Homo sapiens: one gene and its partners. The protein of the gene in region 2 purifies or fractionates together with the protein of the main gene of each other region. This does not show direct contact. Each region holds a gene or a part of one and is shown on either strand. Other genes may lie near its edges.

Region 1 (3,752 bases), on a different chromosome or scaffold from region 2:
AGCTGGTCACTGTTAATGTGACTTGGTATTGTTGGATTGAAAACTAGAAAAAAGTTAATGACAAGATAAAGTTTCTCATTCTGACTTTGTGAAGGGGAGAGTGGTTACAATTATAGACTAAGAAAAGACTGAATATAATCCAGTGTAAATTCTTTAATGACATAATAGCATAGCAAAAATCACTATTTTTCACTAGTTTTTTTCTCTCTCCCCTTTCCCGCAACTCTCTTCCAGACCCAGCAACCTAAAGAAGATGGAGTTTATGTTTTTCATCCCCATAGTCAGCCAGTTAGCTGTCTTTACTTCTCACCCGCCAATCCGGCCCACATACTGTCACTGAGCTATGATGGCACGTTACGCTGTGGGGATTTTTCCAGGGCTATTTTTGAAGAGGTAAATGTTAATGTGTTTACATGCTGACTTCAGATGATATTCTAGATTCTTCGAAATGCCACATGAATAATTATTATACCAATTGGGAGAAGTGGTATAGCAGAAGGACTTTGAGAACTACGCTGCCTAAGTTCAAATCCCAGATCATCTGTTACTAGTTGTATGACCTTGACAAGTTGCTTAACCTTGTTGTGCCTCACTTTCCTTAGCTGTGAAATGGGATTTAACAGGACTGACCTTACAGGGTTGTCATGAGAATTTAATGAGCTTATGCAGATAAAGTACTTAGAAGAGAGCCTGGCACATAGTATGTGTTTGCGCTTGTTAAATTTCTTTTTTTTTTCTCTCCCAAAGCTTTTAACTAAAATAACTTACTCTTCTGTTTTTAGGCATAAGACTTGTATTTAGCTGGGTGTGGTGGCTCATGCTTGTAATCTCAGCACTTTGGGAAGCCAAGGTGGGAGACTCACTTCAGGCCAGGAGTTCCAGACCAGCCTGGGCAACATGGCGAGACCTTGTCTCTACAGAAAATAAAAAATATTAGCTGAGCTTGGTGGTGTGTGCCTGTAGTCTCAGCTACTCAGGAGGCTGAGGTGGGAGAATCACTTGAGCCCAGGAGTTCAAGATCAGCCTGGGCAACATAGTAAGACCTTGTCTCTAAAAAAAATTAGCTTGGTGTGGTGGCATGTGCCTGTAGTCACAGCTACTCAGGAGGCTGAGGTGTGAGGATTGCTTGAGCCCAGGAGATTGAGGCTGTAGTAAAGCCGTGATCACATACATCATTGCACTTCAGCCTGGGTGACAGAGTGAGACCCTCTCTCAAAATAAGACATCTTCTACTTAATGTTTAAAACAAACATATCATTTGAAATGAACTTTCAGATTTGCTTAACTGTATCAGATTGCCTCAATAAGATAAGTCTTATAAGTTGAACTTTTTTATTTTATTTTTTTTGAGACGGAGTTTTACTCTCGTCACCTAGGCTGGAGTGCAGTGGCGAGATCTCGGCTCACTGCAACTTCTGCCTCCCAGGTTCAAGCAATTCTTCTGCCTCAGCCTCCTGAGTAGCAGGGATTACAGGCACCCATCATCACGCCCGGGTAATTTGTTGTTGTTGTTGTTGTCGTCGTTGTTGTTGTTGTAGAGATGGAGTCTCACTCTGTCGCCCAGGCTGGAGTGCAGTGGTGCGATCTTGGCTCACTGCAAGCTCCGCCTCCCAGGTTCAAGTGATTCTCCTGTCTCAGCCTCCTGAGTAGCTGGGACTACAGGCGCATGCCACCATGCCAAGCTAATTTTTGTATTTTTAGTAGGGACGGGGTTTCACCATGTTGACCAGGCTGGTCTCGAACTCCTGACCTTGTAATCCACCTGCCTCAGCCTCCCAAAGTGCTGGGATTACAGCGTGAGCCACTGTGTGTGGTCAGATTTGCCTCTTCTGGACATTTCATATAAATGAAATCATACAATTTGTGGTCTTTTGTGACTGGTTTCTTTAACAAAATGTATTCAAAGTTCATCCATGTTGTAGCCGTGTATCAGTACTTCATTCCTTTTTATGGCTGCATAATATGCCATTGTATGGGTATTCCACATTTTATTCATCTGTTCATCAGTTGATGAACATTTGTGTTTCTATTCTTTCTTTATATATTTATTTTTGAAACAGAGTCTCGCTCTTGTTGCCCAGGCTGCAGTGCAGCAGTGCAATCTTGGCTCACTGCAACTTCCACCTCCCGGGTTCAAGCAATTCTCCTGCCTCATCCTCCTGAGTAGCTGGGATTACAGGCACGTGCCACCACACCTGGCTAATTTTTGTATTTTTAGTAGAGACAGGGTTTCCCCATGTTGGCCAGGCTGGTCTTGAACTCCTGACCTCAGGTGATCCACCCACCTTGGCCTCCCAAAGTCTTGGGATTACAGGTGTGAGCCACCACGCCTGGCCTTACTTATTTTTATTTTTTGAGATGGGGGTCTCACTCTGTCACTCCAGCTGGAGTGAAGTGGCTTGATCTCGGCTCACCGCAGCCTCTGCCTCCCAGGCTCACGTGATCCTCCCACCTAAGCCTCCTGAGTAGCTGGAACTATAGTCATGTGTCACCATGCTTGGCTAATTTTTGTATTTTTAGTAGAGACGGTGTTTTGCCATGTTGCCCAGGCTGGTCTCAAACTCCTGAGCTCAAGTGATCTGCCCACCTTGGCCTTCCAAAGTGCTGGTATTACAGGCATGAGCCACCGCGCCTGGCTGTAACTTACATTTCAATAAGCTTGACTTTAAAACAATAGGTGGAGAACTCCTATAGCTTAATTAAAAAAGCTAACCCAATTAAAAAATGGGCAAAGGATCTGAATAAACATTTCTTTAAAGAAACACAAATGGCACCGGGTGCGGTGGCTCACCCCTGTAATCCCAGAACTTTGGGAGGCTGAGGCGGGTGGATCACCTGAGGTCAGGAATTTGAGACCAGCCTGGCCAACATGGTGAAACCCCATCTCTACTAAAAATACAAAAATTAGCCAGGCGCGGTGGCAGGCACCTGTAGTCCCAGCTACTGGGGACGCTGAGGCAGGAGAATCGCTTGAACCCGGGAGGTGGAGTTTGCAGTGAGGTGAGATTGCACCACTGCACTCCAGCCTGGGCGACAGAGCGAGACTGTCTCAAAAAAAAAAAACAAAAAAAAACAAAAAAACCCCACAAATGGCAAATAAGCACATGAAAAGATTCTAAGCATCATTATTCATTAGGGAAATGCAAATCACAATGAGATACCCCTTTACACTCACTAGGATAACGATACTTGCCAGTAATAAGTGTTGACAATGATGTGGAAAAATTGAAACCCTCATATTTTGAGAATTGGTATGTGAAATGGTAAAGTTGGTTGGGGAAAGTTTGACAGTTCCTTAAATGTTAAACAGAGTTACCATATGACCTAGCAATATCCCTCCTAGGTATACACCCAAGAGAAATGAAAGCACATGTCCACACAAAAACTTGTACGGGAATGTTCATACAAGCATTATTTGCAATAATACAAAGAATAGGTTGGGCATGGTAGCTCACACCTGTAATCTCAGCACTGACAGAGGCCGAGGAGGGTGGATCACTAGAGCTCAGGAGTTCAAGACCAGCCTGGCCAACATAGTGAAACCGCACCTCTAAAAGAATACAAAAATTAGCTGGGCGTGGTAGCATGCGCCTGTGGTCCCAGCTACTTGGGAGGCCTGAGGCATGAGAATCACTTGAACCTGGAAGGGTGAGGCTCCAGTAAGCCGAGATTGCATCACTGCGCTCCAGTCTGGGTGACAGAGGGAGACTCTCAAAAAAAGTTACATATGGTACAATTTACCACTTTAGGTA
Region 2 (3,752 bases):
CTGTCTACTTCCCAGAGTCTTGATAAGTAAAAGTTTAATTTTTAAAAATCATCAGTTTATTTGAGGTATCACTGTAAAAGTTTCAAGCAGCTTCCTTTACACCTTAAAGGATTCCCATTTCAATAGGAAAAGACAGGAAAAGAACCAGCTATAATTTGCTTTATTTCACACATTTGGATGTGCCATGAGTTAAATCATGTTTATACAAATATTATATACAGTAATAGCTCAATACAATATGGTAAACTTAGACATCAACATTAATAATACAAGAAAAATATACAAAAGCCAAAGTTTAAAAAAAAACCTGAGTACTATATAATCATTTTTGCAGTAATTACTGTTCAAAAATATCTAAGACGACTAATATGAATTTACACTTTTACTGCTCAATCACTAAATTTGAACTGACGAAAGTATTTTATAAATGTAAAATAAAACTGTGAGTTTTAAAAATCAACTGTCTTTACAGCATGAAGTTTAAACTGACCAAAGGACAAAGAACTGCCTCGTTTTCCCAGCAACCAGCCAACCTTAAGCATCTCCCTTGCTTTAAGGCAAGAAGAGGGCAGGACGGAAGCTGGCAAGGAGCAGCATGTCCCACTGTGGTCTTGGTGAGTGGGAGCACATAGGAAATTTTTCTCATTTTTCTATCTCCTTTACCAATTTCCCCAACTAACATGGAAAGCAGAACACTACCTGTCCTTACCTGTCCCAATTAAAACCAATACTACAAATATGGTTTCTAAACATGCATACTTATGGGCTTACAGAATTCAAAAAATTATAAGATAATCATCAAAATTTAACAGTCCAGTTTTAACTTACAAGAACAATTAACAGTAAAATTATACATTGTGAGATCCACTCTCTAACACCTAATATATTTCTTATTTTGAAAACAGTAATTGGAGCTAGTGTCTTATTTATAATAATCAGACTTAAAAATGAAGTCCTGGCTGGGCATGGTGGTTCACACTTGTAATCCCAGCACTTTGGGAAGCTAGAGTGGGAGGATTGCTTGAGCACAGGAGTTTGAGACCAGCCTGGGCAGCACAGCGAGACCCTGTCTCTACAAAAATCAAACAATTAGCTAGGCATGGTGGCACACGCCTGTGGTCCTAGCTACTCGGAGGCTGAGGTGGGAAGATCACTTCAGCCAGGAAGGTTGGGACTGCAGTGAGCTATGATCGTGCCACTCTGGCTACTGCCCTTCAGCCTGGGAGACAGACTGAGACTCTCTGCCCCCTCAAAACCCTCAAGTCCTGTGATTTTGCTCCTTCCTCCAAGGTATTCACAATTTGGATCTAGAGGCTGATATTCTTTAAGACCTTCACTCCCAGAACCTTCCCTCTTGAAACTGCACTGCCACACAAACTCCAGAGCCTGCCTGCTTTCTCCTGCGTGGTGTCAATCACACCTGAAGCTCCTCAGGCCCATGCCCCTCCACCCCTGCCATCGATCCACGTGCCACCCCCCTGCCTGCTGCAGGCACCTGAGGCCTGGCAGAGGTTAGCCTAGTGATATAGTAGGTCAGGATGCTGAGAGCAAGGGTGGGGATACTGCGTTTCTATAATCTCCAGCTTAAGCTTGAAATGCATTTTCCCATTAAAAACAACATACAAAGGATATTACGCTCCTTACAAGGGCTAATATTTTCACTGATATATTGTGTGGCATGGGCTTTTGCAGACTGGTCTGAAAAACCAACTGCTTTCATGATATAGGGGAACATGTTTTACAGGTATCTTTTAGATTGCTGCATCGTAAGTCTTTCATGATGAAGAAGAAAAATAAAACAACTAAAATTTGAATTAAAAAGAAATAAAAAGGCAAATTTGACCATGTTATAAATGACAGGTACCTTTCTTATTTCTGTATCATGTGCTATCCATCGAATTACTGCTTCAAAGACATATCTTTCATTGCCAACGTTTAACTTCTCAAGAGAAATCACTTCTTTAAGCTTTTGAGGACTCAGCTCTAAGAATTCTTCCGTGCTGCTGACGTCTCGGAAATGAGTCTCCAGGTATTCTGTGGCAAGGTAATGAACGTGATGGAGGCAGTAATGTAGTGCAAAGTCACGGATACCAATACAGTTCTCAGCAGCAATGCAGCCTTCCAAAAACTCACAGCACAGGGTTTTAAGGTCCGTCAGTAGCAGCAGGTCAGCTGCCTGAACAACATCTTGGATTGTATCTTCATTTAGCCTGATCTAAAAAAGTAGCATAATTATCTTATATTTGAATGTGTACATTTAAAACCCAAACCACTAACCTATTAATTGGGGCCACATGAAATTTCCATTTATTTTAGATCAAAGATAATCGAATATTGGCAATTTCATATGGTTTAACCCAGCATTTTTTTTTTTTTTTCCAAGAGTTGGAAGGCACCAACATAAGCAAATGTGTGCTTGGTTAACTTTTCCCAGCTCTGCCCTTGCTGTACCAATGTCAACCACCAATAACCCTTTTAGGGTGAACTGTCCATGTTGTTCACTTCTGTAATTCAGAGAAAAACCTTAATGACTCAAATGCTTGGGAAATGGAAAGTTCTACATTCTATGGTAAAGTCAACATGATTAAGTACCAGCATCAGAACTGATGAAAATCTTGCCTCCCCACCTATGAAGTTCACTCTTCCGCTAAATGGCATGCCAACCTGAATGCTAACCCCTTGAAGGGAGAGGGGTTTCCAGTGTTTCAGAAGCCTCATTCCGCATCCCAAAACACTGTACGCAGTGCAATTTGGTACACAGACAGATACACTTAGGTCTCAAAACTACTTTTTGGAATAAATCCCTAATACAAGGGTGTTTTTTTTTTCTCATTATGAACATCTACTTTTCCTTAATTTTCTTCAATTTTCTGACTAATGCTTCTTCCTCCACTGACTTCACAGTGCTCCAAAGCATCAGGAAAGAAACAGTTCTCTAAAATATTGCCACAGTCCTAAGTGGACGACCCCAAAGCATGGGCACTTCACCCACATTCGCAAATGCAAGGGAGACTTCATGAGGAGTATAGCAAGAAACATTTTTACATTTTACACTTTTTGTACCACAGATTTTTAAAAAAGTATAATTGCCAATCATCTTAGAAACTGAGCAACAAAAATGTGGAAAGTAGTATGGTGAGTAAGCCACAAGTAGGGGAAAATGTTCCATTTATATGACATTATATTTAGCCACAAGACAGCAGGCAGCTGTAGACTCTTCAAATATAGGCACGTGAAAAAAACACTCAACTGCATTTCAATAAAACAAAACTGCCAATTCAGGAGTTTGTTATAACTTACATTCCAACTATCGTTTTTTTTTTTTTTTGAGACGGAGTCTCGCTCTGTCGCCCACGCTGGAGTGCAGTGGCGCAATCTCGGCTCACTGCAGGCTCCGCCCCCTGGGGTTCACGCCATTCTCCTGCCTCAGCCTCCCGAGTAGCCGGGACTACAGGCGCCCGCCACCTCGCCCGGCTAATTTTTTGTATTTTTAGTAGAGACGGGGTTTCACCGTGTTAGCCAGGATGGTCTCGATCTCCTGACCTCGTGATCCACCCGCCTCGGCCTCCCAAAGTGCTGGGATTACAGGCGTGAGCCACCGCGCCCGGCCCCAACTATCGTTTTAAATTTAAATTGGGAACAAATCACAGAACTCAATCTGTAAATAATGTTTCAACTTTCAAATCCAAGCCTGAACATGAATAGGCTCTTACTGGCTTATAACTCATTATACTAATAACTGCTGCTGGATT
Region 3 (3,752 bases), on a different chromosome or scaffold from region 2:
CACACCCAGCTAATTTTTTTTTTTTTTTTTTAGACAGAGTCTCGCTGTTACCAGGCTGGAGTGCAGTAGTATGATCTCAGCTCACTGCAACCTCCGCCTCCTGGGTTCAAGCTATTCTCCTGCCTCAGCCTCCTGAGTAGCTGGGACTACAGACGCATGCCACCACCCCCAGCTAATTTCTGTATTTTTAGTAGAGACGAGGTTTCACCATGTTGGTTGGCCAGGATGGTCTCGATCTCTTGACCTTGTGATCCGCTCACCTTGGCCTCCCAAAGTGCTGGGATTACAGGCTTGAGCCACCATGCCTAGCCTTATTTATTTATTTTCTGAGATGGAGTTTCGCTCGTTCCCCAGGCTGGAGTGATATGGTAGTCACGGCTCACCGTAACCTCTGCATCCCGGATTCAAGCTATTCTCCTGCCTTAGCCTCCCAAGTAGCTGGGATTACATGTGCCTGCCATCACATCCAGCTAACTTTTTTTTTTTTTTTTTGAGACGGAGTCTCGCTCTATCGCCCAGGCTAGAGTGCAGTGGTGCGATCTCGGCTCACTACAACCTCCACTTCCCCGGTTCAAGCGATTCTCCTGTGTCAGCCTCCCGAGTAGCTGGGACTACAGGTGCGTGCCACCACGCCCGGCTGATTTTTTTATTTTTAGTAGAGACAGGGTTTCACCGTGTTAGCCAGGATGGTCTTGATCTCCTGACCTCATGATCCGCCCACCTCGGCCTCCCAAAGTGCTGGGATTACAGGCGTGAGCCACCACGCCCAGACCTAATTTATATATACATATATATGTTTTTGAGACCAAGTCTCGCTCTGTCGCCCAGGCTGGAGTGCAGTGGTGTGATCTCAGCTCACTGCAAGCTCCGCCTCCCAGGTTCATGCCATTCTCCTGCCTCAGCCTCCCAAGTAGCTGGGACCACAGGCACCCGCCACCACGACTGGCTAATTTTTTGTATTGTTATTAGAGACAGGGTTTCACCGTGTTAGCCAGGATGGTCTTGATCTCCTGACCTCGTGATCTGCCTGCCTTGGCCTCCCAAAGTGCTGGGATTACAGGTGTGAGCCACCACACCCAGCCCTAATTTTTGTATTTTTAGTAGAGACGGGGTTTCACCATGTTGGCCAGGCTGGTCCAAAACTCCTGACCTCAGGTGATCCACCAGCCTTGGCCTCCCAAAGTGCTGGGATTATAGGCGTGAGCCACCATACCCAGCCCCCAGCCTGATTTTTTGGGCAGAAGTCCCCAACCCTGGGGCCAAGGACTAGTACTGGTCCGTAGGCGAACGACACAGCACAGAGGTGAGCATTACCACCTGAGCTCCACCTCCTGTCAGATCAATGGTGGCATTAGACTCTTGTAGGAGCACAAACCCTATCGTGAACTGCAAATGTGAGGTATCTAGGCTGCATGCTCCTTATTAGAATCTAATGCCTGGCCAGGTGCATTGGCTCACACCTGTAATCCCAGTACTTTGGGAGGCTGAGGAGGGCAGATCACTTGAGGCCAGGAGTTCAAGACCAGCCTGGCCAACATGGTGAAACCCCACCTCTACTTCTACTAAAAATATAAAAAATTATCCAGGCATGGTGGTGCATGCCTGTAATCCCAATTACCTGAGAGGCTGAGGCAGAATAGCTTGAACCCAGGAGGCGGAAGTTGAAGTGAGCAGAGAGAGCACCACTGCATCACAGCCTGGGTGACAGAGTGAGCCTCCATCTTAAAAAAAAAAAAAAAAAAAAAAAAAAAAAAAAATCTAACACCTAATGATGTGAGGTGAAACAGTTTCATCCCAAAGCACCACCCCCATCAATGTCTGTGGAAAACTGTCTTCCACAAAACGAGTCCCTGGTGCAAAAAACGTTGGGGACCACTGCTTTAGAGTGCTTACTTAACATATGTTTAATGGGAAAGGCATTTAAATAAACAGAATCCCAATAATTTAATCTGAGCAATATTACCATAACCTGGATGACATGTTTCTGATAACAATACAGTTACTGTCTTATTATTATGTCAGCATGCAAAAGAGCATGAAAAGAAAAAAATACATAGTATGCAACTTTTAAAAAACAGCTTTTACCATCAGACACATAGATAAATTACCCTAACCACAAGTAGGAATTAGAAAGGTAGAAAACAAGAAGGCAGAAAATGAGGCCAGGCACAGTTGCTCATGCCTGTAATCCCAGCTCTGTGGGAGGCCAAGGTGGGTGGATCACCTGAGGTCAGGAGTTTGAGACCAGCCTGACCGACATGGTGAAACCCCGTCTCTACTAAAAATACAAAACTAGCCAGGCATGGTGGTGCATGCCTGTAATCCCAGCTACTTGGGAGGTTGAGGCAGGTGAACTACTAAACCCAGGAGGTGGGGGTTGCAGTGAGCCGAGATTGCACCACTGCACCACAGCATGGGCAACAAGAGTGAAACTATCTCCCAAAAAAAAGAATATATGCAAATGGCCAAGAACCACATAAAAAGTTGCTCCATATCATACTAGCTGTGAAGGAAATTCCAATCAAAGCCACAATGAGAAACCACTTTATATCTAATAAGTTATATCTAAAAAAGACAGATAACAAGTATAGGTAAGGATATAGACAACTTGAAACTGCTGGTGGGCATGTTAAATTGGTGTAGTTGGCCAGATGCGGTGGCTCACACCTGTAATCCCAGCACTTTGGGAGGCTGAGGCCAGTGGACACAAGGTCAGGAGTTCCAGACCAGCCTGGCCAACATGGTGAAACCCTGTCTCTACTAAAAATACAAAAATTAGCTGGGCGTGGTTACACATGCTTGTAATCCCAGCTACTCGGAAGGCTGACGCAGCAAAATTGCCTGAACCTGGGAGGTGGAAGCTAGTGAGCCGAGATGGCGCCACTATACCCAGCCCAGTCAAGGACAGAGTGAGACTCCATCTCAGAAAAAAAAAAAAACAAGAAAAAATTGGTGTAGTCGCTTTTTTTTTTTTTTTTGGGAGGTAAAGTCTTGCCCTGTTGCCCAGTGGTGGAATCTCAGCTTACTGCAACCTCCGCCTCCCTGGTTCAAACAATTCTCCTGCCTCAGCCTCCTGAGTAGCTAGGATTACAGGCACGCATCACCATGCCCAGCTAAATTTTGCATTTTTAGCACAGACAGGGTTTCACCATGTTAGCCAGGCTGGTCTCAAACTCTTAACCTCAAGTGATCCACCTGCCTTGGCCTCCCAAAGTGCTGGGATTACATGTGTGAGCCAGTGTGCCTGAATTATACATTTCAAATGGGTAACTTATATCTCAATAAAGCTGTTACTAAGTATATTTTTTAAAAAAAGGCCGGGCGCTGTGGCTCACACCTGTAATCCCAGCACTTTGGGAGGCCGAGGCAGGCGGATCATGAGGTCAGGAGATCAAGACCATCCTGGCTAACATGGTGAAACCCCATTTCTATTAAAATAATTAGCCAGGCGTGGTGACGGGTGCCTGTAGTCCCAGCTACTCGGGAGGCTGAGACAGGAGAATGGCGTGAACCTGGGAGGCGGAGTTTGCAGTGAGCCAAGATCGCGCCACTGCACTCCAGCCTGGGTGACAGAACGAGACTCCGTCTCAAAAAAAAAAAAGGCTCAGGTTTTGAGATCACAGACTTCAATGTGAATTGATGCTGCACTTTTCTGCCTGTGAATCCATGGGGAAATTTAACCTCTAAACAGTTTCTTTAGGTACAGTAAGTATAAAAGGGGAGAATGTCTACTTCCCTACAGTGTTTTAAAC

The links.
Region 1: the proteins of GAN (region 2) and WDR76 purify together in Homo sapiens (affinity purification with mass spectrometry; 3 studies listed by BioGRID and IntAct, with this or other methods). This does not show direct contact.
Region 3: the proteins of GAN (region 2) and QRICH1 purify together in Homo sapiens (affinity purification with mass spectrometry; 2 studies listed by BioGRID and IntAct, with this or other methods). This does not show direct contact.

The regions. Positions count from the first base shown.
Region 1 is NC_000015.10:43,850,853-43,854,604, forward strand, and holds part of WDR76 (WD repeat-containing protein 76), read left to right. Parts: intron 1-234; coding exon 235-393; intron 394-3,752. UniProt on the Homo sapiens protein: Specifically binds 5-hydroxymethylcytosine (5hmC), suggesting that it acts as a specific reader of 5hmC.
Region 2 is NC_000016.10:81,352,868-81,356,619, reverse strand, and holds part of GAN (gigaxonin), read right to left. Parts: intron 2,216-3,752; coding exon 1,865-2,215; intron 1-1,864. UniProt on the Homo sapiens protein: Probable cytoskeletal component that directly or indirectly plays an important role in neurofilament architecture.
Region 3 is NC_000003.12:49,059,411-49,063,162, forward strand, and holds part of QRICH1 (transcriptional regulator QRICH1), read right to left. Parts: intron 1-3,752. UniProt on the Homo sapiens protein: Transcriptional regulator that acts as a mediator of the integrated stress response (ISR) through transcriptional control of protein homeostasis under conditions of ER stress.